5 separate regions of the Homo sapiens genome follow, and regions 2, 3, 4 and 5 are each linked to region 1. The links come from fine-mapping of genetic effects on gene expression. A gene starts in region 1. Each other region holds a variant in brackets. All regions are shown on one strand. Distances are from middle to middle. Region 1 holds the start of MCPH1-AS1 (MCPH1 antisense RNA 1). Region 2 overlaps MCPH1-AS1 (MCPH1 antisense RNA 1). Region 3 has its middle 690 kb from the start of MCPH1-DT. Region 4 overlaps MCPH1-AS1 (MCPH1 antisense RNA 1). Region 5 overlaps MCPH1-AS1 (MCPH1 antisense RNA 1).

Region 1 (6,709 bases):
TGACAAGCATCCTTCTAAGAGAAAGGGAGAGTGAGATGTGAGACAGAAGAGGTGGCAGCAAGGACTGTAAGGCAGAGGTTAAAGTGATGGGGCCCCAAGCCAAGGAATGCCACCAGTCACCAGAAGTTGAAACCCACAAGAACGGATTCCCCCTAGGGCCTCCAGAGGGAGTAAAATTGAGCCTACACCTTGATTTCAAAGTGCTGGCCTCCAGAATCACGAGAACTTAAGTTCTATTATTTTAAGCCGCTTAGTTTGAGGTGATCTGTTTTGGCAGCACAGGAAAGTAACACAGGTACTTGAATCAATGCCTCTCAACACAGTAGAGAGACTTAACTGGATTTTCAATAGTCTCAAATTACGTGAAATATAAAAAAGCTTATAAAATTCTTATTACTTATTCTAAAGAAATAAATGGTGAAGAAAGTACCCATTTGAGTTTCAGTACCAATGAGAGATTCTGGAAGGACCTAAAAGGATAAACGAGTTATAAGGAACAATTTTAGCAGCACTGACTGAAATATTTCTCTATCTCAGAGATACATATGAAAATAAAGTAGTGAAATTGGGGAAGAAAAAGGTATTTACCCAGAATCCAAGAAAAATCCAACTAAATTTGTTGGAAGCAGGTTTACCTGCCAAGCACAGATCATAAATCTCATGGACCTACTACTACTTCTCTTCAGCTTAAAAATTCTATGTAAAAGAAAATATTCTTCTGCAAGAACTACTGTGAACCACTTATTTTTTAAACCTAGAGTTGAAAGGTGTAAAAATGTCATTTAAAAAAAATTTTATTTTAAAATGCCTCTTTAATATATATAAATTAATAAACCTTTTATTTAAAAACTTATAACCTCTTAAATTACTAAAACTCCCTTCAGAAATGAGTCAACAATACTTTATACAGAACAAGAGAATCATCACTAGCCTTGCAAACGAAAGCTGATAAAAACAATTCAAGAAAAAAAGAGTGTCCTAACAAAACAAGAAAAGCAAGCTAAAAATTTTAATCAAAACATCTCAGTGACAAAGTTAATGGTACAAAGTCACAGGTAAAAAATAAGGTGACAGAACATCACTATAAATCTTTTTCCTTTGGGTCTTATGTTTGAAGATAGCTATTTATTCCTCTATTGATTTAATCTTAACAGAAACAATAAAAAATATTGAAAGGTAGCTTTGTGTACACAGGAAACCCAGATTGCAGAAAAAGACCCTAATAAATTCAAAATACCCTGCTCTGTTACTAAACAGAAAATAATTATTTGTCCCCTCCATACAATAAAAATAAAAATGCAGGAACAAGAAACTCTTGGTTTTAAATTTTTATTAAATGTTCATAACTTGCATTTGATGATCAGTGGGCAATCAGTTCGTTCTACGACTCCTAAAGAACTTCATCAAGGAACACACATTAAACAAAATTTTGAATTATACTTAAGGGTCCTCAGGCATCCTTTCATAAATGCATGAAAATTAGTGCTGGATGCCACTTCCTTTGATTTGAACAGACGGTGGGGGGAATGATTAGATTAAATGTTTTCAAAATCACTTGCTGGGAAATCAAGAAGTAAATCGGATCTCTGAACATCAGGTAAGGTATGCAATTTCAGAAACACTGCTAGGTTTTACAGCCATTTAAAAAAATAAGAACTTGCCAAACCAAAAAATCCTTCAATGGTGTATTCTGCATCATATTGTGTCCTCTTTGAACAAAAATAACATAACCCGCCACAGATAGAATTATTTTTTTAAGAGGTGAATGACTTTGTGTTCTGAGCTTATATCCCATCCCAGGCCAGTTGTCACATGATGTGGAAGTAAAAACTTAATCATGATAAAAATCATACATTTAGACAAACTTGGTGGAGTTACCATATAAAGGGAAAAAATTAGCCTGAATTATTGAAATTTTTAAATGAGGCCCATTTTAAACGTCAACTACCAGGAAACCATGACCTGGAACAGTATCTTTTTTTCTTTCCAAGGAGACACTTACAGACACTGGTTTAAATGGAGGCCCTGGCCTCTCCTAGTTCCTTCCCCCCAAACAACTTCCAACTGGGGCCATCAAGGGTCGATCAGCAGTGCAACTGCAAACTAAATATAGTACCTGACTGACCACAGGGTAAAAACAGCTGCTGTAGGTGGAAAAAAAAAAAGTTAAAAAGACAAAATGATACCGTCCCATTTCCCCATGCCACCCTAACCCTACCAAGAAAAGTAAAAGAGGACTAGGTGGACATTAGGAATAACCAAGAATAAAGCTGTTCTTTCAAACTGAGAAATAAAAGAAAAATTCACCTTTTTTTTTTTTTTATAACACTTCAAATACCTACTGTTAAAGAGGGCCTTCCACTTTTATGGTTTGTTTCTCAAGTTTAATCTACGAATCCAATCTCTACAGAGAAACAGTAACAGAAAGAAAGTAATCAGACAACAGATCACCCACACATTCAAGCCCAGTTAAAGTTGGCAAGAAATGTATCTAGTTAGGCTTCTACGGTTAACAAATGTATTCATTTCTTCGCCCAGCTTTCACTTGTCCAGGGGAAAGAACACAAGACCGAATTGTACTTCTGTTTCAAGAGGTCACTGTAAAAGCGCACTTCGGAGTGTAGACGTCTCCGATCTGTTCCAACATGACCACCTCTTTGGACCAAAGGCCAGAAACTGCTAAACGCGTGCCCTATTATTTAAAACGTGCATCTGCACCCACTTTGCTAAGCAGCATCAGACCCAGGCGAGGGGCGGGGAAAGGGGCGGCGGGTCCCACTCGTAGCCTCAGGACGACGCAGCCACAGCTTCCTAGAGAGCGATCTCGGCAGAACGGCAGGAAGCATGCGGAGAGGAAGGCGGGGAGGCGGCACGTGCTCTCCGTGCTGGGTCCGCCGGGCCGGCCGGGTGACCCTCGCCAGCTGTGGGGGAGCGGAGAGGTCCGCGCCCCCGGGAGCTCGGGTGGACGCCGAGACCCGGGAGCGGGAGGCGGCTCACCTGGACCCCGGTGTAATTCTCGAAGAAGAAGAGCACCATGCTCTGGTAGACGCAGTAGAGCCGGTCGTCCAGCGCTTGGTAGAAGCGGGCGGGCAGGAAGGCGGAGAGCAGCCGCCAGACCCCCCAGGCCAACACGTAGGTGGGCGCCGTGCCCAGGAGCACGACGCTGGGCAGCAGGTAGCGCATGGAGTACGTGTGGAGCACCAGGGACAGCAGCATCTTCTCAGCTCGGCGGCAGCGAGCTCCGCCTGCGCTCCCCGCCCGCCTCCCGGGCCTCAGTCGCGGCCAGCAGGCGGCCAATCACCGCCCGGGCCCGGGCCGCCGCGCCCGCCACCCGCTCCCAGCCTCCGCCCCCAGCCGCATGGGCCGCGCCGCCGCCCGGGGCCGGGTAGGCGAGTGCGGGGCTGCGTGCGCCGCTCCCGGCGGCAAAGCAAGGGAACCCGCGGCCCTCCCGGATCGATGGCTCAGGGATGCTCACACCCCATGACCCTCACCCATCGCCACATCCCCCTGCCGGGGCAGGGGGCTCCGCGGCAACAACGCGCCTTCTGATTGGTCGCCCGTTGCCATAGTTCCACCTCGGCGGCAATAACACGTCTCTTGATTGGTTGGTTTGGGCCGACAGTTGCAGTACAGCTACCTGCTGGGGCGCGGGCAACCCGGCTCCGGCCACTGCGCATGCTCCCCAGCTGGGCCGGCTGCGGACGCGGGAAGGGAGGTGGTGGCGACTGACGGAACTGGGTGAAGGTGGGTGCTGGCCGGAGGAGGGTCCGGGTGCCTCTTGTTCTGCTCCCTCGGGCCGGACGTGCGCGCGGTCAGGTTTAAGGGTCGCTGGAGCTGCCTGGAACGCGCACCTGCTGCTCACAAGCCCCTGGGCGCCGGGATGCACACAATTAGAGCAGTGAGAAAGTGGGTGTTAACGTTATCGGAGGTCTAATTCTTGCAGGCACCTGGGCCCAGGTTGTAGGCAGCTCGGCCCAGGTCGCGGGGCAGCTCGAGTGTCCCCATCTGCTCACTGCCAGTCCTTTGCAAGGGGACGCCGCCTCCTCAGCCTCCGCTCTGAGTGCGCAGCAGCCCCTCCTGCCCGTCTCTCGCTACCAGGGTGTTTCAGAATTAGGGTCCGTGTTTTTCCCCATCACAGTAATGATGATAATTACATGTTTATGCATAGCTGAAGAACAATCCCACAAGGATATTTCCATACTGTTTATTAGACCTTTTCAGAATTCACTCTTGCTTCATTTCCTCAGAGTCTGTTGGACTTGTTTCTGATTTTTTTTTAATAAGGAGCCTCGTTTTTTTCTGTAGTAATTAAAGTAGTTGCGTGCACATGTGTAATCCATAAAAAGCATACTTTTGTAGCCTTCACTAAAAGCTACGAAGGGTGGATAACTGTTTTATTGATGTTAAAGCAGATCCACAGGACTTTTGGATCTTTCTCCTCCCCTTTGGCTGTGGTAAAAATGGTTTAATATGTAACCCTTTTCAAGGATAGTTGTACTTTAAAAGAATGCCGAATGCTTTACCATATATATATATATATATATATATATATATATATATATATTCCCGCCCCCTCCCCACCACCACCATAATGGGAGCCTGTGCTACCTTTAGGCAGGACGGTATTTCAGTGGGAAGTTCTAATCAGGGCCAGGATGGTAGCTACTTTCTTTATACATGATTAACATCAAATAACAACATCATTGGTAGATGATGACCTTTGGGGACAAAGCCAGGTGAATGGAGATCTCTCAAGTAACAAGTATTTGAAGGCCAGCAGGAAGCATTACACAGTAAAAGGAGCTTCTCTCTTTCTGTGGCTGTCATTGTCCTGTACTGTAAGAAGCACTAGGTTTAGTACTGGTGGAAAAAAGTCACAGGTGTGGACAGTGTGCACAACTAATGCTCCTTATGCTTTCTTTAACTGAGACCAGACATCTCTACACTAGAACAGTGTGCGAAAAGATAAAGCAGGTTCTGTGTTCACGTTAGGATTGCTGTGTATAAAGTCAGTAAATATGTGTTTATGTGTAAATTTGTTGTGAATCACCCCAGATTACTGTTAGTCACGAAGTTGTAAACTTTTGTGCAATGTTTGCCATGAAAACACAGAACTTAACTTTCTCTTGTTCCCTCTTTATCTCCAAACCCAGCTCCTGACTATCAGTTATTGTCTGTCCTGCTCCCGCTCCTCTCTTCCTGCGAACAGTCACAGATCCACCCTCTCTTTCTGCCACTACCCGGCCCTGTTTTTCTGTTTTTTTTTTTTTCCCTTTTTCCGTGCAAACCTCTTAGTTGATAATCAGCCCACACCCTCTGCCTCCTTACCTTGTACTTTTGTTGAGCCCTTGCAGTCTGATGACCTTTTCCTCCCCTTTACTGGAATGGTGCTTCTTTCAGAGCACAGCTGATTTCCTCCTTTGCATACCCTGCTGGGCACCAGTGGAACAGTGAAAGGTGAATTCTGTCTATGCCTTCCTTGTACAACATTTAACAAGGAGTTACCTGTGGGATGAAAAGGGGACATTCTTGGTTCTCTGGGAGCATATATCAAGGCAATCTAATTTAGTCTGGAGACAAGGAAGACTTCTCAGTGAAATGGTATTTCAGGTGAAGCTTGAGGGACTTAGTGGGCTTTCCATGGGAGAATGGCACATTTGAACGCCTGAAGCTGAGAAATCACCATATTCTCATGCATAGCACTGGAGTGGGCCACAGTGTTCTTTTTAAAATTTGTTGAGATGCCCCTTGAAAGAATGCTGTGTATTCCCATCACACATTCTTAAACTGATATTTAAATGTTTTTCTCAGCTGGGCATGGTGGCCTATACCTGTAATTCCAGCACTTCAGGAGGCCAAGGAGGAAGGATCACTTAAGCGCTTTGTAGAGTGAGGCCTCCATCTCTACAAATATATTTTTTTAATTAGCTGGGTGTGATTGTGCATGCCTGTAGCCCCAGCTACTCAGGAGGCTGAGTTGGGAGGATTGCTTGAGCCCAGGAGTTCAAAGCTGCTATGAGCCATGATCGCGTCACTGCAATCCAGCCTGGGCAAAAGAGAAAGAGTCCATCTCAAAGAAAAAAAAAGGTGGGGAGAGGGGGGCTTTTAATGATAAATTTAAAAAGGCTTTTAATTATAAATTTAAGTAGTTATGAAGTTCTGATGAGTTATGAATGATGTTTTGAAAATAAAGTGATTACAGAAAATTTTTAAATGTATGCAGTGAGTTATAAATATTATAGTGACTTAATATCCACCCCATCATTCATTTCAAAAATACTTAAGCCTTTGACCAGTTGAAAATTTTGCATTGATTATTTTTCTCCCTGAAAATATTTTTATTTCACTTCTACCACAGGATTCTATCATAATTGAATATGCTCTATCCTTCAAAGTTTTTTACTGATCAGACTGTATCATTAGGGTCCTAAGAAGCAAATTTTCTTCTGGATTGAACTGTTACTATTATTAGCAATACACAGTTTAATCAATGTGTTTCACAAAATCTGATAAGGAATTGTAGGCAAAAAAAAAAAAAAGTTACAAGAAATGCATCTCTTAAATAAGTTATCTCTGTTGGTGTCCTAAGGTTTATTACACCTTTCTACCTCAGCAGGGCAGCACAATGTAGTAAGATTTAGGATGTGCCAGGGGGGAGAGGAGCCATTATGAAATGCCAGGTGGGCCTGGACTGCAGGAGTCCTCAGAC
Region 2 (6,709 bases), 49 kb after region 1:
TGGTTCCCGTGAGGATGTGGATCCTCCCAAGACTGCTGACACTTTATGCCTGAGTCCAAGACTCATCCAGATTGACTCTGTCCCCCTGCTCCTCCTGCGTAGCCACTCAGGCAGCAAATAATTTCATTTCCAAAATTTCATTTCTAATCCACCTCCTCCTTTCCCTCTCTGTGAGCACTGTGTTCTGCGCCTTAACATTTCTTGTCTGGAAAATTTCAATAGCCTTTCTTAACTACCCAACGCTTATATCTCACTTGCGTCCCCTCAACGTGCCCTTCCACTGGAAGTTCCAGCAATCCTGAGGCCCTCAGACCTCCCCTCACCTTCGGGACTGGCACGGGCCTCTCCCTTGGTCTCTTTTCCACTCGGAACTCCTATGCTTCCTTTGAAACCTATGTTAGAGAGTCAGGCATGGTGGCATGCACCTGTAGTTGCAGCCACTCAGGAGGCTGAGGGAGGAGGATCGCTTGAGTGCAGGAATTCAGGGCTGCAGTGAGCTATGACCATGCCTCTGAATAGCCACTGCACTGCAGCCTGTGCAACGCAGTGAGACCCCACCTAAAAAAAAAGAAAACTCACCTAAGTTAGATGTCAGTTTCTTCTGGAAGTATTTCCCAAGCTCTTTTCCTTTCCGTTTAAAAGCAATCACCCTTTCTCAAAGTTGTCGCTCTCCCTGGTCTGCAGTGAACTTATCACACTGTGTTGTCATTTGTTTTCCAGCCTCATCCCCCTTCAAGGCTGTCAGCTCGCTGAGATAGGTGCTGTATCTTCATTATTTCTGGCCCTTGGAGCCTGTACAGTCATTGATACAGAAGAGCTGCCCAATAGAGTTCTTACAAATTTTGGCTATTTCTGTTTGGTGTGAATCAAACTCCAGCACTTGTTGGAAGGTGAGTGGAGGCAGGGAGAGGGCACCACAAGCCCTGTGAATCCAGGGTAGGAAAAGCAGGTGGAGATGAGGCCTTCAATAGATGAAGCTGCAAAGTTACTGCTTTGAACAGAAATGTGGAAAAGATCCTCATATCTTAAAAATAGTATCCCTTTGCTTCTGGTGACAGGCTAACTTCGGTGGGTCCATCAGCATTAGGGACCATGGGGGTCATTTCACCAAATCTCTTTGCTCCTTTGTTGAAGAAGTTAAACTCCTCAAGCTCAGATATGTTATGTGCTTAAAGTCTAATTTGGGCTCCAAGGATATTATAAAGTAGCCCCTGAATCTAATAAATCTTTAAAAAGGGGTGGTGTGGGAATTGCTCAAGAAAAGCAAAGTGCCGAAGAGTTAAAAATATCAGAATTCCTCCGTAAGTCTCTAACCGCTGCTCCACAATCTCTTCTGGGCTCTGAAGCCACAAGATGAGGTGACAGTCTTTTCCTCACCCCTAAAAAGGAGGTCAGTTTTGAGCCCGTTACCTCCTACTGTGCCATCAGCCCTTTCCCCACACAGCATCCCCAGTTGTTTTTGGAAGGAACCTTGTGGCATCGTGTGAGTCACAGCCCTGCGGCTCCTACCATCACAGCCTCACACACTCAGGACAAAGAGTCCTTCTCTTTTCTGTGACCAGTTCCCAATAAGTTCATGGTCGGGTTTCTCGCCATTGGTTGAGTACATTATCTGGCTGATAACTGGCTCTTGGTGCCAAGCTCTGAGGTCTGGCAGTGTCTCCCTTCCCGCCCTCCCAGGGCCCCTGGGGCGGCCGTGGGCCGACGGAGCTGCTGCTGTTGCCCGTTGTTCTCATCTCGCTGTTGACAGACAACAGCCCTAGAGAGCCCAGGATGGCGTTCCTCCCCTCGAGTGCTCCCTCCTCAGCGTTGGCTGAGGTTTCATTGGCTGGCTCACGGGAGACAATACTGAATTAGCTTTTTCAGTAAATCGTCTATCTGGAATATTAAAGATGGAACAACTATGAGTTCCCATAGATAAGCTGTAATCCAAATATTAAAAAAATTGAAACCAGATTAATGAAATTGACAGCTGCCGCCAGTATCTTAGAGTTCTAGGTGGAGTTTGGTCCCTGCAAGGTCCTGAGGCTTTGGGAAAATATTAACGCTTAGACTGGGAACTCATACCAAACAAAATAATAGTTTAGCCTGAAGAATGTTTGTATGATCTTGTGTAGTTTCAGGTCAATAATTCTAATTACTGTCTCCATTAAGGGGTTAAATATTAGAGGGATAAAAGTAGATATTGTCTTCCTGACACAAAAATTTATAGTTTTAAATAAAGTAGTAGAATTAGAATTGAGAACACTGAACAAAACAGTTTAATTACAACCACAGGTAACTTTAAAATAGGCAAATTCCAGCCTTACATTATGGTCAATTAAGTATTTGTCAAACAGACACAATAATGATAAGTTCTCTATTCTTTCCTTGTTGTTTGAATTGTTTGGAGTCAGGCCTGTTGGCTATGCACTTCTTAATCTGTGCTGGGGGTTCCTACCAGTCAGTGTCTGATTCGTGTCTTTGAGTCAGCATAACTCACTGAATACTGCAAACCGAGATGCCTTTGCTTCTTCCCCCTTTCAGAAGGGCGTCGACTCCCTGGCCATCATCCTGTGCTCTCAGGCACCAGACAGGGATTATTGTGAAAATTGCCAGTTGAAGAAACCCTGGCTCTGAGAAGACAAATGCCTTATCTGAGGTTTCAGGCTGGGTGCCAGTGAGAACCCATGGTCAGTGCATCCGTCCTGGATTTAGTGTGAGGCAATCAGGGGCCAGTGTTGGCAGCAGAGTAAGGTCTCCTCAAAGATGTTCTAATCTGAAAATCTGTCAATATGTTTCCTTCCATGGCCGGGGGGATTCAGGTGGTAGGTGGAAAAGGTACTAATCAGCTGACTTTAAAACAAGTCCACCTGGGTTATTTTGGGGAGCCCAAGGTAATCAATGTAATCACAAGGGTTCCTAATTGGGGAAGAGAGGGCAGAAGAGTGAGTGTCAGAGTGAAGTAAGATGAGAACGACTCCCCTGCCGTTGCTGGCTTTGAAGATGGAGGAAGGGGCCATGAGCCAAGGAAGGCGGTACCTTTAGATCCCAGAAGAGACAAGAGACGCATTCCCACCCAGCGCCTCCAGAA[A/G]GTAAGGAATCTCTGCTGACACCTTGATTTTAATGAAATCATTTGGGCCTCCAGAAAGGAAGGGAACATAGGAGGTGGAAGAGAAGGAAAAAGAATTGAGTTGAATATAGAAAAATAAATTTAAAGAACAAAGAGAAGCAAAGAAGGGGAGGAACAATCACATTGGAGGGAAGGGAGCAGAGATGAGAGATGTTTGGGATCTTGATTTTTGGTTGACAAAGAGCTTTACTTCTCAGCAATGTGATCCCCTAAAGAGGTTCTACTCAGATCTATTGTTCTCAGCTAGCTTTCAACAGTTAACTAACCAGTGACTTCTTGAAATATGTTTTCTTCTTAGATTTTGTGACTTTGAACTCTCTATCTTGGGTAGTGTTAAAGCAAACTAAATATGGCCAGAGAAGGACTCCAGTACTTTTATATTCGAGTCCTTGTGGACGAACTGCAATCTAACTTAATAGGTAGACAAGATTGAGAACCTAACTTAGGAGTATGCACCTGTAACAATAGCTGAGTCTCGGCTAATCCCAGCAGCCATACTTCAACCATTTATACACTGCTGAGTGTTCAAACTGTGTTTAAATAAGGCAAATGCTGAGCTGTAACCAACCCAGTTGTTTCTGTACATTACCCCTGATTTCTGTACATTACCTCCCTTTGTTTGGTCTATAAATCTTCTTCGGCTGTGCTGGGGTCTCTCTAAATTCGCTGTGATTCTGGGGGCTGCCTGATTTGCCGTTCATTACCCAATGAAGGTCCTTTAAATTTAACTCAGCTGAAGTATTTCTTTTGCCAGACACAGCTTCTCTACATTTACCAGATCTAATGTTTGGAGTTCCCTATGGCTAAAGCTTGGGGCTCTGTTGCTTTCTCCTTCCAGGTGAGCTTATCAATTCCTGAGACGTAAAAGACACACACACCTACTGATTTGTCCTCATGCAGTGTCCGGACTACACACACACACACACACACACACACCACTCTACTTCACATCTTAATTCGGATGTCACTCAGACCTCTCAAACATAACATGTTCAACATAGGATTTTTTTTTTTTTGGAGGCAAACTCTGCCTCCCAGGTTCAAGTCATTCTACTGCCTCAGCCTCCCAAGTAGCTGGGACTACAGGTGCACGCCACCACACCCAGCACATTTTTTGTATTTTTAGTAGAGACGGGGTTTCACTATGTTGCCCAGGCTGGTCTTGAACTCCTGAGCTCAGGCAACCTGCCCACCACCAGCCTCCCAAAGTGCTAGGATTATAGGTGTGAGCCACTGCACCCGGCCTCAACATGGGATTTTAAGTTTTTTCTCGTCATGCCATGTATTATTATTTCCAATTATTTTTCCTCTTCCATGAAAGAGGATTAAACATCCCACCCAGTTCCTAGTTGCTTACATACCTTCTTGGGGAAGGCTCTCCTTACCAGGCTTGCCATGTGTGGTGTAACAAAAATGGACATCTGTTAAATGAGGCTAATAGATACATGTTCTTGGTCCCTAGTTCCTGGCACAGAGCTTCAGAAACCCTTGTAATTTCCTGAGCACTAGGAGTGTCTTTGTGATGCTAATGAGGTGACCCCCGGTGGCCCCTAGGTGGCTTCAGGATGGGGGCTGGTCACCAGAAGGACCAAGCACTTGGTTAGAAAGTTGGGACTTCGGTTGATCATGACCATGGGGATGGAGGAGAGGACCAGAGATTGAGGTCAATCAACCAACTTAATAAATTTAATCAATCTCATGCCCACATAATGACACATCAATAAAAAACTCTGCAGCACAGCCTTGGTGGAAGTTCTTTAGAGGAGTTCATGAACGCACTGATTGATGTCCTGGCCCTGGGAGGGTGATGTGTTCAGATTCCACGGGGAGAGGGCATCAAAATTTTGCATTCCCTCCCAGACTTCACGCTATTTCATTGCAATTTTTGATTTAAGTCTGTTTTTGCTGAATTATATCTAATTATTTCTAATATAACCTCTAATGTAACATCCTTTTAGATTTTCTTTTACTTTCCATTGTTTATTATTGTCATATGCTTTCAAAATTCTTCAAGATTTGAAAACTTAAAGGCGTATGTAAGTGTAGTGAGTAGTTACGTTTCCCTTTCATGCCTAACATTGTTTTGTTCCTTCTTTTCTTCCAACCCTTGGTCAAACTTTCGGAAATTTGTCTATTTTATTAGTCTTCTCAAAGAATCATCTTCGGATTAATTGATTCTTTTTTCTTTATATTGATTTTGTTACTTTCTGCTATTATTTTCTTCCTATCACTTTCTTTGATTTACTATGTAGCTATTTCCCCAATTTCTTTATTTCTTTTTTTTGAGACAGTGCTTGCTCTGTTGCCCAGGCTGGAGTGCAGTGGTGAGATCTCGGCTCACTGCAACCTCTGCCTCCCAGGTTCAAGCGATTCTCCTGCCTCAGCCTCCCAAGTAGCTGGGACCACAGGCGTGTGCCACCACGCCTGGCTAATTTTTTGTATTTTTAGTAGAGACGGAGTTTCACTGTGTTAGCCAGGATAGTCTCGATCTCACCTCGTGGTCCGCCCACCTCGGCCTCCCAAAGTGCTGGGATTACAGGCATGAGCCACCGCGCCTGGCCCTCCCCAGTTTATTTCATTCAATATTTAGCTAACAAAGTTTTAGGTTTCTTCCCCCTTTACTACTAATATAAGCAATTAAGGCTGCATAGTCCCCTCTAACTATTGCATTAGGTATGTCCCAGAAGGTTTTATTTCAGTTCTAAATATTTTTTCATTTCCATTATGATTTCTTTTGATGTATCAATTATTTATGTTTTCAACCTACAAATACAGTTTTTGGACTTCTTTGAGACAGAGTCTCACTCTGTCACCCAGGCTGGAGTGCAATGGTACGATCTGGGCTCACTGCAACCTCCGCCTCCTGGTTCAAGCTGATTCTCGTGTCTCAGCCTCCTAAGTGGCCGGATTACAGGTGTGCGCCACCATGCCTGCTATTTTTTTTTGTATTTTTAGTAGAGATGGGCTTTTACCATGGAGGCCAGGCTGGTCTCGAACTCTTGGCTTCAAGTGATCTGCCCACCTTGGCCTCCCAAAGTGCTTGGATTACAGACGTGAGCCACTGTGCCCAGCCTAGTGTTTGGATTTCTTCATACAATTAATTTCCTACATTATGCTTAGTTCAGAAAACATGGCCTGTATGACCGTATATGAACTTAAACCTGTTGAGTCTCTTTTTTGCTCTCCCTGATTGGAGCTCTGGGCCGGTCTGGCTTCTTTGGCCTCTTGTGCAGTTTTTCCTAGTCCTCTTCCTCTCAGCGTGTCCTTCCAGGAGTTTGCTTTTCTTTAGGGGATCTCAGCTGCAATGCCAGCGACTTTTCACAGGTCCACTTCCTCATCTGCTGATCCTGTTCGACATGAAAACCCAAGCCTCTGCTCCCCAAGAGCCTGCTCTGCCCTACCTGGCAGCGGCCGGACCCCAGGACCTGGACTCGGCATCCCGGCTGCCTCTCTTGACTCCCCACCGCCTGAGGATTTCCATTCTTTATTAGGAGTTCTGCAGTGCTTTTGGAAGGAAGCTTGTGACATTTCCATCACTATCTGTAGGTCTGTTGTGCAAAAGGGTGTTTAGGTTTAGGTGATTATATCCACTGCATG
Region 3 (6,709 bases), 990 kb after region 1:
TATTGGATTAGGGTTTGTCCTAAGTCTGATCAGAGCATCCTCATAAGAGATAGAAAAGGGTACATGGAGATATGGAAAAGTCAATGGGACGTTGGAGGCTGAAATTGGAGTGGTTCATCTACAAGCGAAGGAGCTCTGGGATTGCTGGCGGCTACTGGAAGCCATGAGAGACATGAGATGGTTTCCCAAAAGGCTTCCAGGTGGAGGCAAAATTCCTGACAAAATCTGTGACTCCTGGCCTCTTGAAATGTCAGATAATAACTTAATGTTGTTTTAAGCCACTCAGTTAGTGGTAATTTGTTACGGTAACCACAGGCAACTAATACACCCTATAATTGACTTGGACTTAATTTTGGTATACGTATATTTGGTATATGTATAAGGGTAGATGAATCTTGTTTCTATATTCATTTCAAATTGTTCCAGTTAAACCAGAATCATTTATCTAGATTAGCTTTCTTGAATTTTTAGATTCACGCCAAATATATTTTATTCATACTACCTGGATCTTTTAAATTTCCCAGGTTTATAAATAATTTAAATATATGTTATTACACACATGCACATTTTTACTTATCTGATCTTCTTGATGTATTAGCTGATTACTAGAGACTTTTACTTGTTTTTCCTCTAACAACCCTCCTTTTCTTGATGCCTATATTGTTAGATAGTCATATGGTAACTATAGCCTTTATTTGCTTCTCGTTTTACTATCAATCTATTTGTGTGTAAAGTTTATCTCTTTTGCATAAGACTGGCTCTGCTTTTTTATTTAGTCTGAAAATCCTGACTTTCGATCAGTGTTTAGCTACTTTTTATTCAATATCAGGATCAATATAGTTTTATGTAGGCTTTTCCATTTTGCTGTCAGACATTCCTTTTACCTTGTTTTTTTATGTTCCTCCCATCTTGCCTTATTTGCACTTTAATTATTTATCTTTGAAATTATATATTTGCATTGTTTTGTGGTTGTACAGGTTACCAAGATTTATATATCTCTCAATATCTTTGAAATGATATAGAATTACAGCAGGTAAACTATAGACAATTTGCAATGGTATATTTTTATTTTCTCCCATCTTAACACTATTGTCATATATAGCATATGTGTATTATTTATAATGCCATTATTACAGTGTTATCCTTTTTTGTTTTAAACATTAATGCGATTTTCAAAGAAATTAAGGTAAAATAATGTGTATACGTATTTTATATATACATATATGGGATATATACACGGGTACCTGTGTGTATATATTTACTGTAAGTATATATATTATATATACTATATAATATGTAGCATATTTATGTGTGATTCTACATAAATGTATATACATATACAAAGAAAGAGAAGAAAGAGAGAGTTATCTAATGAGTAATTTTTTAACATTTCCAATGTTCTTTCTATTTCCTTCGGAAAGCATCTCTCTTCAGCTTAGAAATTTTTCTCTAGTCCTTACTATATTGCAGATGGGCTTAAGAAAAAAATGTATGAGTTTTCCTCCATATAAAAAGGGATTCAATTAGAGATATAATTTCACTGGGTAGAAACTTTCTGAGAGGTGTTTTTGTCTTTTCATATCAGCACTTTAATGTGTCATTGACTTTCTAACTTCTGGTGAAATCTCAACCACCATGCTTACCACTGTTTCCTTGTACACAACACTTGATTTTTCTCTGAATGCTTTGGAGATTTTGTGTGTGAATTTGATACAACTCGGAATAATTTTTGTGTATATTTGTTGGTTAGATTATTTTGAATTTCTTGAGTTTTAAATAAGTATTTTCAATACTCTTCAGAAAGTTTTTAGCTATTACTCCTTCAAGATTCTCTTTTGATAATTTCCACTTAATCTTATCTCCTTCTGGAATTTCAAGTATGTATGTGAGATTTTTAGTATTATCCCATGCATCCATGAGCTTCTGAGATATGAAACAACTGCAGCACACACAAACCCACACATGTGTTCTCTTGTTTTTCTTTTTGTGTTGAGTAATTTCTATTAATGTACTTTCAACTTCAGTAATTATGTCCTCTCATCTCTAATTACTACTGGTCTCATCTATTGAATTTCTATTTCAGTTATTATAGTTTTCATCTCCATTTGTCTGTTGAACCTTGTGCTTATTAATACTACCATTTTAGAGCTTTTTTTAATTCATAAAACATATATATATGTGGATGTATATAATTGTTGAAGTTTTCATTTGCTTAGTCCTACATGACAACCTTCTCAGTTTCCATTGATGGATTTCTTTTCCTAAATGTGGGCCACATTTTCCATCCTGAATATCTAGTAACTTGTGGTTGAAATCAAGCAGTGCACATCGTCAATAATACATTACTCTGTCAATAATAATCTGATGTTTTCTTCTGACATTTTTGTTATTGTTATTCTAGTGGGTTGTTTACCTGTCTGGAATGATACTGCAATGTTTTCTTCCCTACCATACACAGCTGCTAGTAGTTTTCCTCTTTATGTGCAGTTCCACAGTTCTTTTTGATTTTTTTCAGCAAGTGATATGTTTTGGCTGTGCCCCCACCAAAATTTCATTTTGAATTTTAGCACCCATAATCTCCACGTGTCCACGTGTCATGGGAGGGACACAGTGGGAGGTAATTGAATCAACTGAATCATGGGGGCAGGTTTTTCCCATGCTGTTCTTGTGATAATAAACAAGTCTCCTGAGATCTGATGGTTTTATACAGGCTG[C/T]TCCACAGCACAAGTTTTCTTGCCTGCTGCCATGTAAGACATGCCTTTGCTCCTCCTTCACCTTGCCATGACTGTGAGGCCTCCCTAGCCATGTGGATTTGTGAGTCCATTAAGCCTCTTTTTCCTTATATATTACCAGTCTTGGGGATTTCTTCATAACAATATGAAAATGAATATAGCAAGGCACTCTGAAAAATTTCAGCCTTATATAATTTGGCAGTTAATTAAGAACGTGGGCAGAGGAAGTTCACCTCTGTGTCTCCAAGAGCCTTAGAGTCTGTCCTCTAACTCTTCAAGCCTGCTGCACAAGGTGTGCATGAATTGGAAGTAGAGTTTATTTAAAAAGCAGAAAATGTATCAATATTATGGACTGTAGATCTTTCAAGATTTTGTTCCTATTTCCTATAGGGGTTTCAAAGCCTGTGAGGTCTCCAGTTTATAAGCATAATATTCCAGCTCTCAGTGATTACTGGAGCAGTGCTTACATTGAGCATTTGTGTCTCAGTCCTCCTTCACTTCTCTCAGCCAGCGTGGTCCTTTTATATTCCAGAGACTTTCTCCTCATTCATTCATTCATGTATCTATATCTATATATCTGTATCTATATGCAACTTCCTCTGCTTTGGGTCACTTCTCATGTTTCTAAACAGGAACTCCTTAAAAACCATTTTTAAATTATTTTACCCGTGCAGAATTTTTGCATAACCATTTCATTTCACAGCCATTTACAGAAGCCTAGATACTTCTATTTTAAACAGAAAAAAATAATATGCTATTTTATGAAGCTATTAATTTGGGTGTTGAAGGTAGAGATATCAATTCTGTGTCACTAATTGTGGAAAGTAAGAGAAGTATTCCTCCCTATTCCCAATGGCTCTAATTTCATGGGCGACAAAACATCTTTGAAAAATAGCTGCTTAAAGGTGTTGGCCGACTGACCATGAGGACTGGCCTTGGAGCACCTTTTGGAAGGCATCATGCATATATTGCCTTTCTAAAGTGATGTGTTATAGTGGCAGGACTCCGGTAGGATTTCTCTGGGAAATATCCCACTTTATACATCCTGCTTTGCCAAAGAGGAAGTGAGAAACTCATTTGGAGCTCAGACACAGTGATGTGAGGTGGCGCCGAATGTAACTGCTCCCACGTGAGATTTTTACTTGGAATAGAGTAGCATGAGACAGGAGATGCCACACAGGATCTCCTCTGGTGAGCGAGCAAATTAGTGAGGGATCGCAGCTTTTCAAAACAATAGCGGCAGAGCTGCCAGCAACAGATTTCAGAGCTTGAAGTTGAATGCTGCCATTACTGTTGAGCAGCAGAGGCACATGGTCAGGGGTACCGCACTACCTCTCCATTGCTTTTGCTCCTGTCTGTGTGGCCTCCAAGCCTGATTCTCTCACCCTCCCGCAGATTTCTAATATCCTTTAATATACTCCTCTTCTGCTTAATCTAGCTAGGGTGGGTCATGGTTTCTGCACCTAAAAACTCTAACACATGCATTTCTTCTTAGGCATCAGACTCACTGTTTGGTGAATATAACTAATTTTTACAGTATCTTTTTCATTAGACATCTAGTTTTGTTAGATTTGTTTTTCTGAAAATGTGTATGTGGGGTGGGTGTGTGTGCATTCACCTCTGAAATGTACTGAAGTAAAAACTGGCCCCTTGTGATCCTGCCCTTGCAGGTCCTAATTTTCTCAGATAACAGAGAAGGAAATTTATTAAAAAACTGTGGTGGTATGCAAGTGGTAAGAAATTTAGATTCTAAAACTAAACATTACATATGTTTATTAATATATCATATATGTTTCGTAGAACCCAGCGTTTAAATATTTATTAAGTATTTCAACCATGCAGTATATTGCTTCTGAGGTAAGTCTGCTGTACTATTCCGGCCCTAGTAAATACTTAATGCTTTGACCTATTCCTATTACCATAGGTTACCAGGCCACCAAATAAAACAAGCCAATCCAGCATTTGTCCATACAGGAAAATGTGTGAGCTCCCAGGGATTACTGATCATCCTCTTCAAATCAACCTTCTCTTTACAGAAATGCCAAGTCTGCTTTTTCCCAATGATACAGCAATCTCGGATGCAGAATTCATGAAAGCTGAACCATCTTGTTAGCAAGCCTTCTAAGATACGAAAGGGCAATATCCGGTTCCTGATGGCATGAGATGGTCCCGCCTTCGGGATCTAATAGTGAACTCATGGCTTGATGATGCACGCCACTTTTGTACATTCCTAGCTCCTCCATTTACAAGCTGTTTACATTTGTCCAGTTACTTGTTAACTATTCTGGGACTCATTTCTTCTCATCTGTGAAAACTGAATTATAGTACGTACTCTGCAAAATTCTTATCTGGATTGAGATTTTACCTGTAAAATACTAACTACAACTCCTAGCACAAAATAAGCACTCAGAAATATTGACTTAAAAAAAATAACACTATGCATTTAGGACATTCTAAGATGACGCATGCCTCGTGTACTGATGAAAAGCAGCAGAGAGTACTTTCCAAGGCATTTTCACCACATCCTTATGATGACACATCTCTCCTGCATCTTCGTCCACACCTTTCACAGTGAGGAGTGCAACTCTCTCTCTTTAACATGAAAAGGGACTCATGGCCTCTGTGTTTTGGGCATAGGCCACGTAGTCAGGGTGTTTCGGAAGCATTGTTTTAAGCACTTTATTAACCTGATAATTCATTTTATCTTTTTAGATATGATGCTCTTTTAAGGTTTCCTTGAGATAATACAAATTCTAAACCACCTACTTTCAGGAAACTTGAACTGAATCATGGGGATACTTTGAGTTGCATTGGATTTTAATCCTAGTGGTGCATCCTGGGAATATTTTTCTCCGTCTTGCAGAGCCTGCCCTCCTTCCCTTGCTTTCACAGGTGTAGTGTGTCCAAGTTGTCCTGAACACATTCTGCAGGGTATATTGCCTCTCTGGGATGCCTCATTCTGCAGAGGTATATTGCCCCTCTGGGATGATGCCACTGTGGGCAGCACATCCTGGCACCTGCTTGCTGTGGCCAGCACTTTTATTTGAAACAGAACATTTCATTCCTGTGACATGTAACAATGTGGTCTTATTGTGTAGAAGGTCTTTTTAGAGAATTTTACCTATCTAATTCGGTTCAGGCAAGGTATAATTTGTAAAGGACTCCATTATACGTAGTACAGGGAACTCTGTAAGTCATCAACACCTTTCCCAATCATAATGGGTACTCAGTAGCTTGGATTTACCACATCAGCAGAAATGCAAACAGGTAACAGAATCAGCCTGTGACGAGGTGAAACTGTGGTCTGACAGAGTGAATGTCAGAATAAAATGCATCTTATTATTTGTTAACAGTAAAATACCTTATTTACATTGGCTTTAATCAGACCCTTATCAGTACATGTAAAAACTATTTTGTTTTGCTTTTTAACATCTGGTTTTATTTCAATAGCATATTAAATTTATTACCATGAGATTCTTTTGTTATGAAGCAAGGAATTAGCATGTCTTGCACAATTAAATAGTCTATCGTAAAAACAGGTTGTTGAACTATCATCCTGCAGTCCATATTACCCCCACTCATGTTTTTTAGTTTTGAAATTTAGAAATAAACAGAATGTTTTAAAAATAACAATGATCATTTTAGAAAATATTGGTCATTTTGTTTCCATATTGTTTAATGGAGTCTAAACTTTTAAAAGGGAAATAGTTCTCTTTCAAAGTTGAACTGCCCACATTTCACTCACACACCCACAAATGGAATGTTATGTATAAAAGCTGGTATTCTCACCACTTACAGGCCCCCTGAATGCAATTCTAATAGATGGCATAATAGATTAGAAAAAATAAAAAAGAAGCATTGAACGGTAGCATTGAAATCTGTTAATAGAAAAAGGTTATAAAATTACATTATAGGTCAGCATTTGATGCATAAGATATAGAGAAAACCAACTTTTATAACTATAGCCTGCAAAGGCA
Region 4 (5,835 bases), 28 kb after region 1:
GAAGACAGCTTGGCAGTTTCTTACAAAACTAAACCTACTCTCACCATACGATCCAGAAATAATACTCCTTGGCATTTACCCCAAAGGGCTGAAAACTCATGTCAACCTAAAAACCTGCACACAGATCTTTATAGTAGCCTTATTCATAATTGCCAAAACTTGGAAACAACCAAGATATCCTTGAGTAGAGGTGACAGGTAAAGAAACTCCGGTGCATCCAGACAATGGGCATTATTCAGTGCTAAAAATCAATGAGCTATCAAGCTATGTATAGACATGGATAAACACTTAAATGCATTTTACTGAATAAAGGAAGACAATCTAAAAAGGCTGCTACTGTAGAATTCCAGATATGTGACATTCTGGAATACTATGGAGACAGTAAAAGGATCAGTGGTTGCCAGGGGTTGTGGTGAAGATGGTGCATGGATGGAGCACAGGGAATTTCTAGGGCAGTGAAACTATCATTCCTGTTGATATTATAATGGCGGATACCTATCATTATACATTTGTCAAAACCCATAGGATGTACAACATAAGAGTGAGCCCTAATGTAAACTGTGGAGTTTCATTAATAATAATAATATTAGCTCATCAATTGTAACAAATGTACTACACTATTGCAAGATATTAAAAATAGGGAAAATTGAGGGTGACAGGATATATGAGAACGCTCTATACCTTTTGTGCAATATTTAAACCTAAAACTGCTCAAAAATAGCTATTTTTTTTTAGAAAACACGAATATTTTAAAAATCATTTATAATCCTTCCATTGTCCCTTTTCATTAAAATATAAAACAGAAACATGTGTTTCACTGATATGACCTGTTTTCGTGGCTGTTTTTTCTTTGCTTAATTTTCCTGCCATGGGGAAGACTGGCTAATTCTACTTTCTTCCCAGTCAGAAATAACTACCAGCAGAGGTTGCTAGAAGGCAGGCATTAGGAATCTTTCTGCTGTGGAGAGATGGGACGGTCCTGCACAGTGCTCGCTTTGCTTTGACGGCCACAGGCATGTCCCTTGGGAAAGCGATCCATGGCAGGGATTTCACAAAGAACTGAGGATCTTTGTATCTCTTTGTGTCTCTGTCTTATGAATATTCCCTGAGAAAGAAGTCAGCCTGGATACCTGACAACAGGCATGAATTCACACCCCTTTTTCTAGATGTTATCATGGAAGGAATGTTGAAAGAAATATGTTTCTTTCGTTTAGTCACCACTTCGGTGGTTAGAAATGTATTTCTAAATGCATTTGTCAAAAATATCTATTTCAATTTAAATATCTATTTAAATTAACACATTTGTTAAATCATTTTATTCTCAGTTTTTTCAGCGTCTGAGATATGTTTAGAGTTGCTAAAAGGTTCATTAAAATAGTTTTGTTAAACTCCCTTAATAAAATTCTGAATGTGATTCACTTTATTCCCAGAGGTTATCCAAGAAAGGAAGTGGAGAATGTTCTTTTTGAAAGCATGAAGTGGGAAAATGTTTAAAACTATTTATAGCAGCACTTAGCTGTGGAAATCCCAGACTTTGCCATCTATTTATAGTTACTCTTTGGGTTAAAAGGGTGAAACCAGAAATCTTGAAAATGCTACATGCTTTTATCCAGCAGTTAAAACTAATAAACTGTCTTTCTGTGGTTATGATAACCAGATACTTATAAGAGTAATTCTGGAAATGACAATAAGTACATCTGGCTTTTAAAAAAAACTGTTTAAATTTAAGAGAGTAATGTTTTCTCCGATTAAGTGATTTGTGTTTGGGTTTCTTATGTTTTCGAGTTATCTGCAAATCGCATTCTCTCTGTAGCATGTGGGATTTCTAATGACAAGTGGGATTGACAAAAATTTGCACACGGGCTAGTAAATCTCCAGTGCTGGTTGGTCATCTGAATAAAAAGAAGGCCAGGTAAAATTACTGGACTTCAAACGCAGAATTTAAACCTTCCTTGGGGGAATACCCATTTCTGAAATTTCTGCCAGGCTATAACCTCAAACTCTGCTCTGGCCTTGAATATATGGCACAGAATTTACACCTATGCAGTGTAGAATATATAATCTATTGGCCTTTAGGAATTTAATTGTTTTAGTTGCTGAATATGTTTTTTTTTTTTTTTTCTGGAGGCAAAAAGACCAGTTAGGAGGTTGTTGCTGTAAAATGAATGTTAAGTGCATATGAGAATTTGGGAGAGGTCAGTGGCCAGCAAGACTGGAGAGGAAGGGATATGTCTGGAGGCTTTTTAGAAGTAGGCTCAGTTGGCTTTGTTGAGGTGTTTGCATGTTAAAATGAAATTCTTCTGCTGGGCGCGGTGACTCACGCCTGTAATCCCAGCACTTTGGGAGGCTGAGGCAGGTGGATCACCTGAGGTCAGGAGTTCAAGACCAGCCTGGCCAACATGGTGAAACCCCGTCTCTACTAATAATACAAAAATAAGCTGGGCATGGTGGCACGTGCCTGCAATCCCAGGTACTCCAGAGGCTGAGGCAGGAGAATCGTTGGAACCTGGGAGGCGGGGGTTGCAGTGAGCTGAGATCACGCCACTGCACTCCAGCCTAGGCGACACAGCAAGACTCCATCTCAGAAAGAAAAGGAAAGAGAAAAAAAGAAAAAAGGACAGGAAAGGGGAGGGGAGGGGAGAGGAGTGAAAGAAAGGAAGAAAGAGAGAAGGAGGGAGAGGAAGGAAGGAAGGAAGGACTTCTAACTGGGGGGAAAGAAGGAAGGAAGGGAGGGAGGGAAGGAAGGGAGGGAGGGAAGGGTAGGAAGGAAGGACTTCTAACTGGGGGGAAAGAAGGAGGGAAGGGAGGGACGGGAGGGAGGGAGGGAAGGGAAGAAAGGAAGGACTTCTAACTGGGGGGAAAGAAGGAAGGAAGGGAGGGACGGGAGGGAAGGAAGGAAGGAAGGGAAGGACTGATTGCTAACTAGGGGGAAAACTGGGGGGAAATTTTGCCCCAGTAATAATGTGAACTTTGGCTTTGTATAAAAATGAAGAGATGATTAAGAATGGATAAATGTCATCCTGGACAACATAATGAGACCTCATCTCTAAAAGAAAATAAAAAAAAATTAGGTGGGTATAGTGGTGCATGCCTGTAGTTCCAGCTACTCTGGAGGCTGAGGCAGGCGGATTGCTCAAGCCTGGGAGGTTGAGACTGCAGTGAATTGTGATCGTGTCACTGCACTCCAGCCTGTGCAACAGAGTGAGACCTTGTCTCAAATAATTAAAAAAAAAATTAAAGAATGGATAAATGCAGTGGTGAAAAAAACAACAAAATCAGGTTGCTGCCTCAACAGCTCATTCTTTGCATACTCCTTACACAAAATCTGACTTAAATAGCAGACATTATTAATCATCATTAATGCAAATCTGTAAATAGAACTCACAGAACTCAATATGCTTTTGTGTCAATCAGGTTAGA[A/CAGAA]AAATCAGACTTCTGAAATGCAATTGTAAATGCAAAATACTCTGAAGCCTTTTCAACTACGATTCTCATTTTTTATTAAATTCCATTCTGCTGCCTGGGTAGTATCACGTAAAAATGCAGCGTAAACCTCTAAGTGAGCATGACACATTCATGCCTGCAAACTGGAGGACGAAACTTACCTGATAACTTCCATCCACCTAAGCCCAGTGATTGCTTCTTCTCAGCTCCCAAAACGCGGGCTGCGTGGGCCATCCATTTGTCACTTTGTGACATGCTGTCCTACGCCACCTCTGACGCCAGTGTCCTTGCTATTTGTTCCTGTAGCAGCCCCATTTGAAGCACTCGTTTCCTGTGGCCACGATGGTGTGTCTGCCTGCACCACCGTAAGTAACCTCTGCTCTGCAGCCTCGCCTCCTCCTGCTGAAGAGTTGACTGATTTCCTTGGAAACCACATGTGCCGCATTAACCAGAAGGAACTTGGGGTGGACAGTTAGGCTCCTGAAGTCCTCGCCCTGTTTTTGCTATCAACATTTGAAGTGATTCTGAACAAACACTTAACCTCTTTAAGTCTCTGTTTCCTCTGTTCTGAAATGAAAGACTGGGCCAAGTACTCTCTAAGGCCTCTCTAACTCTAAATGGCTTCACTCCCTCCCCTTATGCCCCTTCTCTCGACTGGACCGAACTCTGAGGACTATATGGTCCCACTTAGAACCAGTTTCCCAAACCTCTAGATGATATCTACAAGCACACAACCCAAAAGAAAACCTAAGAGTGGCTTTAAGGGAATCTAAACTGGTTAATGAAGAGATGACTGGTCTCATGCAGAAGCTGTTGGCTCCCTTAAAGGGCCCGAGGAAACCACTTGAGAAATTTGCAGAAATAGCAGCTCACAGAGTCAACTTGGCCTTCATGGAAGTTGAAGTGGTGTTTTACATCGTTGGATGATATCAAGATGTAAAACTTTTAGCCCAGAGGCTTTGGAGAGGATGTTGTGGAATATGACTCTACGTCCTGTGCCTTGTCCTTGAACCTTATCGGCTCAAGTCTGCTGGACTTTGCCTCATCCTGTTTGGATGGGCAGGATCCACTTCAGTGGGGCTGGTTGGAGAGGATGGTTGTGTTTTCTTTTTCTTTTTAAACCAACCTTCTTTCCTTCCTTCCTTCCTTCCTTCCTTCCTTCCTTCCTTCCTCCCTCCCTCCCTCCTTCCTTCCTTCCTTCCCTCTCTCCCTCCCTCCCTCCCTCCTTCCTTCCTTCCTTCCCTCTCTCCCTCCCTCCTATCTGTCTTTCTTTCTGTCTTTCTTCCTCCCTCCGTCCCTTCCTTCCTTTGTTCTCTTTCACTTTCTCTCTCTCTCTCTTTTTCAAGATAGGGTCTCATTATGTTGCCCAGGCTTGTCTTGAACTCCGGGCCTGAAAAGATCCATCCACCTTGGCCTCCCACAGCACTGGGATTATAGGCATGAATCACCGTGCCTGCCCAGGGGATGGTTCTTTGTAACAGTGGGGCTGAGTCCAGATTGTCAACAGATAGGGATCACAACTGGAGGCTTGGGACCACTGGGAGCAGGATCTGTGTGTCCTCAGAGCCGAGGTCCTAGAGCAGCTTCCCTTCCCCTGGGTCCCAGGCATGCTCACTGATGGTGGCCCTGGGAGTCACTGTCCCCAGCTAAGACGGCTTGACAGCAAAGGTCCCATGCCTTCATTCATCATTTCCATGACAGAACTTTGGATGGGGAAAGAGGGACAGAGCCCTAGGGACACAACACCCCTTGTTATTCCGGTTAAATCCTCCCTGCAACATTCACAGCTCCCGACCCACTACAGTGACCCCTAGGCCTTGTTAGCCCAGGATTGGGAATATGTGCCTCCACCTCTTCTCCTACAGGTGGACTTGTGTCTCTGAGTAGATTTGGTGATATTTTTTAGATGGGGAGAGAGGTGGGGGAAGGACTACATTGTACTTGAGGCACATGAACTAAGGCCTGATCCCAGTTGCAGCTTCAGAAACACCCAGGAAACCCTCGAGTAGTGAGGGTTGTCTCTGAAAGGTGTCATTGCTTCCTAGAGTCCACCCCATGCCATCCAGGCCGCATTCCCCGCTCCTTCCTGTATACTCTGGGTATTCACACGTTGCCTAAATGAAAGCATGTTTATGGTCACTAGTGTTTCATGTGTCAGGTGTAAAAGGCACCAGAATGATGCCTCTTCTAAAAGTACACATGGATGGGGGATGGGGAGGGTCCTACTGAATTTCTGGGACTGTGAGCCCAGGCACAGTATTTTGGGGAAAAACAAAACCTGCCCAGGTGACTCTGATCTGCAGCCAGGATTGAAATCCACTGAATTGGAGTCATGACAAGAAAACAAGTGATTCAGCCAGTGATCTTCTGTCCTTGGCTTCACTAGTCTCCATCTCC
Region 5 (5,818 bases), 38 kb after region 1:
TGGGTGTTAGCCCCTCATCAGGTGAAGTTTGGCCAATATTCAAATGATCAGAGACAGGTTGTCTCTTCACTTTGTTGTTTTCTTTGAAGTACCTAAGCTTTTTAGTTTAATATAGTCCCATTTGTCTATTTTTGATTTTGTTGCTTATGCTTTTGAGGTCTTAACCATAAACTCTTTGCCTAGACCAACATCCTGGAGTGTTTCCCCTGTTTTCTTCTAGAAGTTTTCTAATTACAGGTCTTAGGTTTGAGCTTCTTTTAAACCAGTTTGATATCTACAAATATCTTCTAATAAGACAAGAACTTTACTATGCTCTCATATCTTTTGTTCTTGCCATCTTCTGCCAACCCATTAATATTGGCATTAACTAACTTTTAATTCTTAGTTGTAAGGATGTATTTTTTCTTGTTAGTCTTATCAATTTGTAAAGATAACAACTCTACTAAGGTATAAAGTCATTTTTCCTTCAAGAATTTCTTGGAATATCTCTTGAATTTCCTTCACTTTTTAGTTAGTTTTTCAAAACTATTTTCAATGTGACCTTTTCTACAAAATCTTGAAAGCACTTGTATGCCTGAGGAAATTCATCATCTCATCTTATTTGAATGATAGTTTGGCTGGATATAAAATTCTACATTTTTAAGTTCTTTTCCATCAGTATGTCGAAAATAAGATTCCAGTTATCTTGCATCCATTGTTGCTGTTAACAAAGATGATATCAAGCTGATTCTTGTTCTTTCATATAGCCTCTTTCTTTCTTTCTTTCTGTGGGCTTTTAGAATTTCTCTGTTTTTTTCATGCTCTTACATTTCAGTTTAGTACGTGTAGGTGAGGTTTTCCTTATTCTCTTTTGTGGTGCTCTACGAGTCCTTTAAATCTGAGGTCAGTCTTTTCATTCTGGGAAACTGATCTGAACTACTTCTTCAAATATTTTCCCCTCTTCACTTTTTCACTCTTGTCTGAGCTGCCTATTACTTATCTGAATGTTTACGTTTCTTTTTTATTCTCATATTGCCTTAAAATTTCACCCCTACTTAATCTGTCCTGTCCTTTCTCCCTTTAAGTCTGTTCCAGTCTTTGTGATCCAAATCTTATATTTCTTCCAATGAAGAGAGGAGAGAAAGAGAAGAACTTAAGTGTTTTCTTGCATCTTCAACCTCTCCCTGCCCTTTGTATTATTTATATGGTGCCTCATTGAGTTGCAGGCACAGGGGATGTCCCTGTATCTCTGACAAACACTGATAGAGAGCTGAGGATGCAGGACCTCAGATCCCATCCCACCTCTGCCATTCTAGGACTAACAGACCCCTTGCTACTTTTCTGGGTCTCATTGGAAGAAGGGACTCATTTACCCTTTGTCTTCCCCACTCGCCTGGGTGCACTCAAAAGACCTGAAGCTCTTTCTGAGGCAGTGGCTCAGTGGTTGGGGGAGCTGAAAAGGGTTGGGCATCTTGCAGCCAAGTTGGCGGGTGGACTTCCCATGTACCACAGTAGCCCCAGTGCTGGGGGTTCGGGGGCACTGGCCTAGCATACACCACACTTCTTTTCCCAGGCACATCACTCTTAGCCCTCAGAGAGCTTCTTTTATCCCCTTCAGACCCTGGCTGTGGGAGAGGTTGTCCTTGCAGAGGTTGTCCTGGCAACCTTTGCCCCCATGGAGTGTGTCATGCCTTTGCTGGCATCACCTCCCCTGTAAAGTCATAGCTGCACTGCTTCTTGGAGCGCTTGGCCACATGAACCTCACTGTGCCTCTGCAGGGGTGTGGAGGAAACTAGAAAGAGGCCTTGGGCTACCCATATTCCAGGCTGGAAAACACGAGGGCATCCTGGCAGCCACACTGCCGACCTGGGATCCTGAGGCCTGTGTCTCTACCTACCCATTGTTCCTCGGGCATTGGGAACACCCATATTCTGGAACACTTTCCTAATCCACTTCCTTTTCTACTGCAGAAGCCCTGATTCCTCCCACATCCACTCCCTCTGCTCTCTTTTCTTCCTAGGGCCACTGCAACCTGGCTCCATTTCTTAATCCCCCAAGTCTTAATCCTCTCAAGCTCTGCCATCCCAGTGGTCCCCCGAATGGGAGCAGCCAGGACATTGGAAGTATTTGAGCTAAAACTGAATATTTTATCAGAAGTTTGAACTCTGGGTGGGGAGGCAAGAATGATTGACCTGGGTGAAATGTTCGGTCCCTCCCAATCTTCAGATGCTTGGAGGATCTGCAGGTCATCCTGTGGGAATTGCCTTTTCTCCCTCCACCCTGCACCACCCTCCACCCCCGACCCCCTGCCCAGCCAACTATGGCCCCTATGTCTGCCCCTAAGAATGGGGGGCCCTGGCCCACTATGGCCCCTATGTCTGCCCACTGACTGGCTGCCCTGCAGGCCAGTGGGGTTCAGTTATTGCCTGACTGCTTCCTTTTCTTGCTCCCTCTAAAGGGTGTGGGTGGAGCTGCAGAGAGAAGGTGCCTTTCTTGTGGGGAGGCCACAGACCCTCCTCCCAACTCGACACAGTGTCCACCCAATGGGACCAGCTCCTCCCATCTCCACACCCTCCCTCAGGCCAGTAGTCAGTTTAGGAGAAAGTCTAAATGGCCTGGCAAAAAAATGGAGGAGGCCTAGGTTAATTATCCAGGGCCCTGTGGGCTATGTCTTATTGGAAAAAATGGCTAAGAAAAACGGATAATCTACAGCATTTTTTTATCATTTATTTCAAATATACAGCACCTCAATTATGCTATGGATAATAGTTATATAATGGTCAGGCCAGGAAGCCAGTACCCGCTGAGACAGTGTTTCTGTAGAATCCCAAATGCTTGGTTCATTGACTTATATAACACCCTGTAATTTGGGGGCTGTTGGTGTTTTGTAACTGTTGAGATGCAGAAATGAGTGATTTC[T/C]TTTGAATTCTTTTACTTCTAGGCAGCAGTCTGTCAACAACTATGGCATCCAGCTGGTCAGAAAGACTAGAGGATTTGACATTTTGCGGCTGTTCTCTAGAACCAAAGAAATGAGAACCTCTTGGTAAAATCCGCTGGTCCAGGAGTTATTATCTCCTGGATTATCTGCCAAAGAAATTATCTGCCAAAATTACAATGTAAAACTGAAGAAGACAACCGATAACTCAGTTAAAATTTTGGAAAAATACAAAGAAACTGTGACTGGGGAGAAATGGTGAGGGAAATTTTCTCGTTGAATTAGAGGATCAGGAGGGCTAAAGGGAGCCCTCATGCTATCAACCAAAATCTCTGTTAAATTCCAAACATAAAATATCTTTTCTCACTGTTAAAATGTCTAAGCAGTCTCCACTAGCAGCCCCCGTCCTGGACACAGGAGCACTGCCCTGCCTGGCCGTCAGGTGCTCCCATAAGCATCATTCAGACAGCGAGGGGGGCAGTGGAGGATTCGGGGGCAGGAGATGGGGTGGTGGAGAGAAGGATGTAACCATCAAAAGTCCATTTTCCCTGCTGAAGCTACCCATGGAACTTTTAAATTGGGTGCAGATTTAAAAATTAATACAAAATATTTGAATAATCGGGGATGTATCAAATGTTCATAAATTACAGCTCCAACTAGGAATGCCTAAGGAACTGTTCCTTCCGTTTAATTGTCCTCTTTGTCTATCAAAAAGACAGCCACTCGCGTGCCTCTTCTAAACAGTCAAATACCATCCTAAGCTCTCATGGAAAATCTCAAGAGGCTTATTGGTTGACTAATTCTAAACCTCTGTTTGCTCAAAGGACAGTGTCAGCTACAATTTTTCATTTGCTTTTGTATTCCATTTATTTTTCTTTACAGCTTTGGGAGATGTGTATTATACTTCTTTTCTTTTAATGATTATCTTGGAAATTGTTTATATATACTTAACAGTCTACAGTGAAGGACTATTTACCATCCTTCTGAATAACACAAAGATTTTAGGACAGTGGTCCCCAGCCTTTTTGGCGCCAGGGACCAGTTTTTCCATGGACCAGGGTGCAGGGGGATGGTTTCAGGATGATTCCAGCACATTACATTTATTGGGCACTTCATTTCTATTATTATTACATTGTAATATATAATGAAATAATTATACAACTCACCATCATATAGAATCAGTGGGTGTCCTGAGCTTGTTTTCCTGCAACTGGATGGTCCTATCTGGGGGTGATGGGAGACAGTGACAGATCAGCAGGCATTAGATTCTCATAAGGAGCATGCAACCTAGATCCCTTGCATGCACAGTTCACAATAGGGTTCACACTCCTATGAGAATCTAATGCCACCGCTGATCTGATGGGAGGTGGAGCTCAGGTGGTAATGTGAGCAGTGGGGAGTAGCTGTAAATACAGATGAAGTTTCGCTCATTTGCCTGCCCACGGCTCCTAACTCTTGCTGTGCAGCCCAGTTCCTAACATATCCGTTGGTGGCCCAGGGGTTGGAGACCTTGTCTTAGAATGGTTTTCCTCCGTTGATCACTGCTTCTAGCTTGTGTGCTACTGGGATACAATATTTTGAATCAATCTCTGTTTTTAACCTCACAGATTGTGTAATTATCAGTATCTGCTTAATATGTATTTAGATTAGTCATATGTTTACCATTTTGTTTAGCTGCCAAACGTCATTGCATTTCAGACTTTCTTTCTGGGAGCGTCTCATTCTTCCTGAAGTACATCATTTAAATGTGCCTTTAAGTTTGGTGGCAAACAGTCTCAATTTCTGTTTATCTCAAAGTGCCTTTATTCTACCTCATTTTTGGTAGTTTCACTGGATTTGTGATTTTTAAATCTATAATTATTTTCTAGCACATTGAAGGTATTTCACTTTCTTCCATGTTCCATTGTTATTAAAAAGACTCCTGTCAGTCTTATTGACATTCTTTTGTAGATAATCTGTTTTTTCACTATTTTATCTATGTATGAATTTAATCTATTTATGAATTTCATCTATGTATTTCATCATGTATGAATTTAATTTATTTCTCTTGCTTGATATATTATATTGCTTCCTGAACTCTGAAAAATTCTTGGCCATTATTTCTTAGTCTATTAAATATTCTTTAAATACTGCTGTCTTGCTGTTACTCTACTATTTAATTCTGAAACTTAAAATGAATATATGTTGGACTTTATTTTTCATTTTCTTAACTTCTCTTGCGTATTTTTAATTTGTCTTTCTGTTACGCATCCTGAGCAATGTCTTTGGATATAATTTCCAGTTTACAAATTCTCTTTTGAGCTGTGTCTAATGTGTTATTTTTTAAAATTTTTTTCAGAGACAGGGTCTTGCTCTGTTGCCAAGGCTGTAGCACAGTGGTGCCATCATAGCACACTGCAGCCTCTAATTAGCAGATTATGTTTTCATAAAATGTTTTTTATCTTTGACCATTTAAAAATTTGGGAGTTTATCTCTCCTCTCCTTTCCTTTCCTTCCTTCTCTCTCTTCTTTCTTTCTTTTTCTTTCTTTCTCTTTCTTTTTTTCTTTCTTTCTCTCTCTCTTTCCCTCCCTCCCTCCCTCCCTCCCTTCCTCCCTCCCTTCCTCCCTTCTTCCTTCTTTCCATGAGATCTTCCTATGTTGCCTAGGCGTACCACCTATTTACTTACTACCATTGCATAAGTCACTTATCTCTCTCTCCATTTTGATTGTCTGAAGCTTGATGTCGACTAGATTTCTCAGGAAAGACTCAGCAATAATAGTCCCTGAGTTCTGGCATGTTGATAAAAGTTTGTCTTTTATTAATTAGATATAAAATTCTTGTTTCATATATTCTTTCCTTGAGTATGTTAATTATTATATGTTATTTTAATATTGTATATTGTAATAGCATATAATAACATATGA

Evidence for each region. PIP is the estimated chance that this variant, and not a neighbour inherited with it, causes the effect.
Region 2: its variant is fine-mapped to the expression of MCPH1-AS1 in fibroblasts (GTEx, PIP above 0.99).
Region 3: its variant is fine-mapped to the expression of MCPH1-AS1 in substantia nigra (GTEx, PIP above 0.99).
Region 4: its variant is fine-mapped to the expression of MCPH1-AS1 in whole blood (TOPMed, PIP 0.97).
Region 5: its variant is fine-mapped to the expression of MCPH1-AS1 in whole blood (INTERVAL, PIP above 0.99). The same link has a PIP of 0.9 or more in prefrontal cortex.

The regions. Positions count from the first base shown.
Region 1 is chr8:6,705,176-6,711,884 of GRCh38, reverse strand. MCPH1-AS1 (MCPH1 antisense RNA 1) reads left to right here and starts at 3,676. Exons shown (of 5, transcript NR_125386.1): 1 at 3,676-3,744. It overlaps AGPAT5 (1-acylglycerol-3-phosphate O-acyltransferase 5), which reads right to left and starts at 3,243. Exons shown (of 8, transcript NM_018361.5): 1 at 2,998-3,243. The coding sequence starts at 3,216. RefSeq lists silencers at 2,850-3,089, 3,150-3,489.
Region 2 is chr8:6,656,587-6,663,295 of GRCh38, reverse strand. The region is part of intron 1 of MCPH1-AS1 (MCPH1 antisense RNA 1); the gene reads left to right. Among named protein-coding and RNA genes, the nearest start is that of MIR8055, 38 kb to the right of the region's middle. The variant A/G (reference allele first, on the strand shown) is at 3,074.
Region 3 is chr8:5,714,702-5,721,410 of GRCh38, reverse strand. No RefSeq gene overlaps it. Among named protein-coding and RNA genes, the nearest start is that of MCPH1-DT, 690 kb to the left of the region's middle. The variant C/T (reference allele first, on the strand shown) is at 2,715.
Region 4 is chr8:6,677,715-6,683,549 of GRCh38, reverse strand. All of the region lies in intron 1 of MCPH1-AS1 (MCPH1 antisense RNA 1), which reads left to right. Among named protein-coding and RNA genes, the nearest start is that of MCPH1-AS1, 28 kb to the left of the region's middle. The variant A/CAGAA (reference allele first, on the strand shown) is at 3,421.
Region 5 is chr8:6,667,343-6,673,160 of GRCh38, reverse strand. The region is part of intron 1 of MCPH1-AS1 (MCPH1 antisense RNA 1); the gene reads left to right. Among named protein-coding and RNA genes, the nearest start is that of MCPH1-AS1, 38 kb to the left of the region's middle. The variant T/C (reference allele first, on the strand shown) is at 2,899.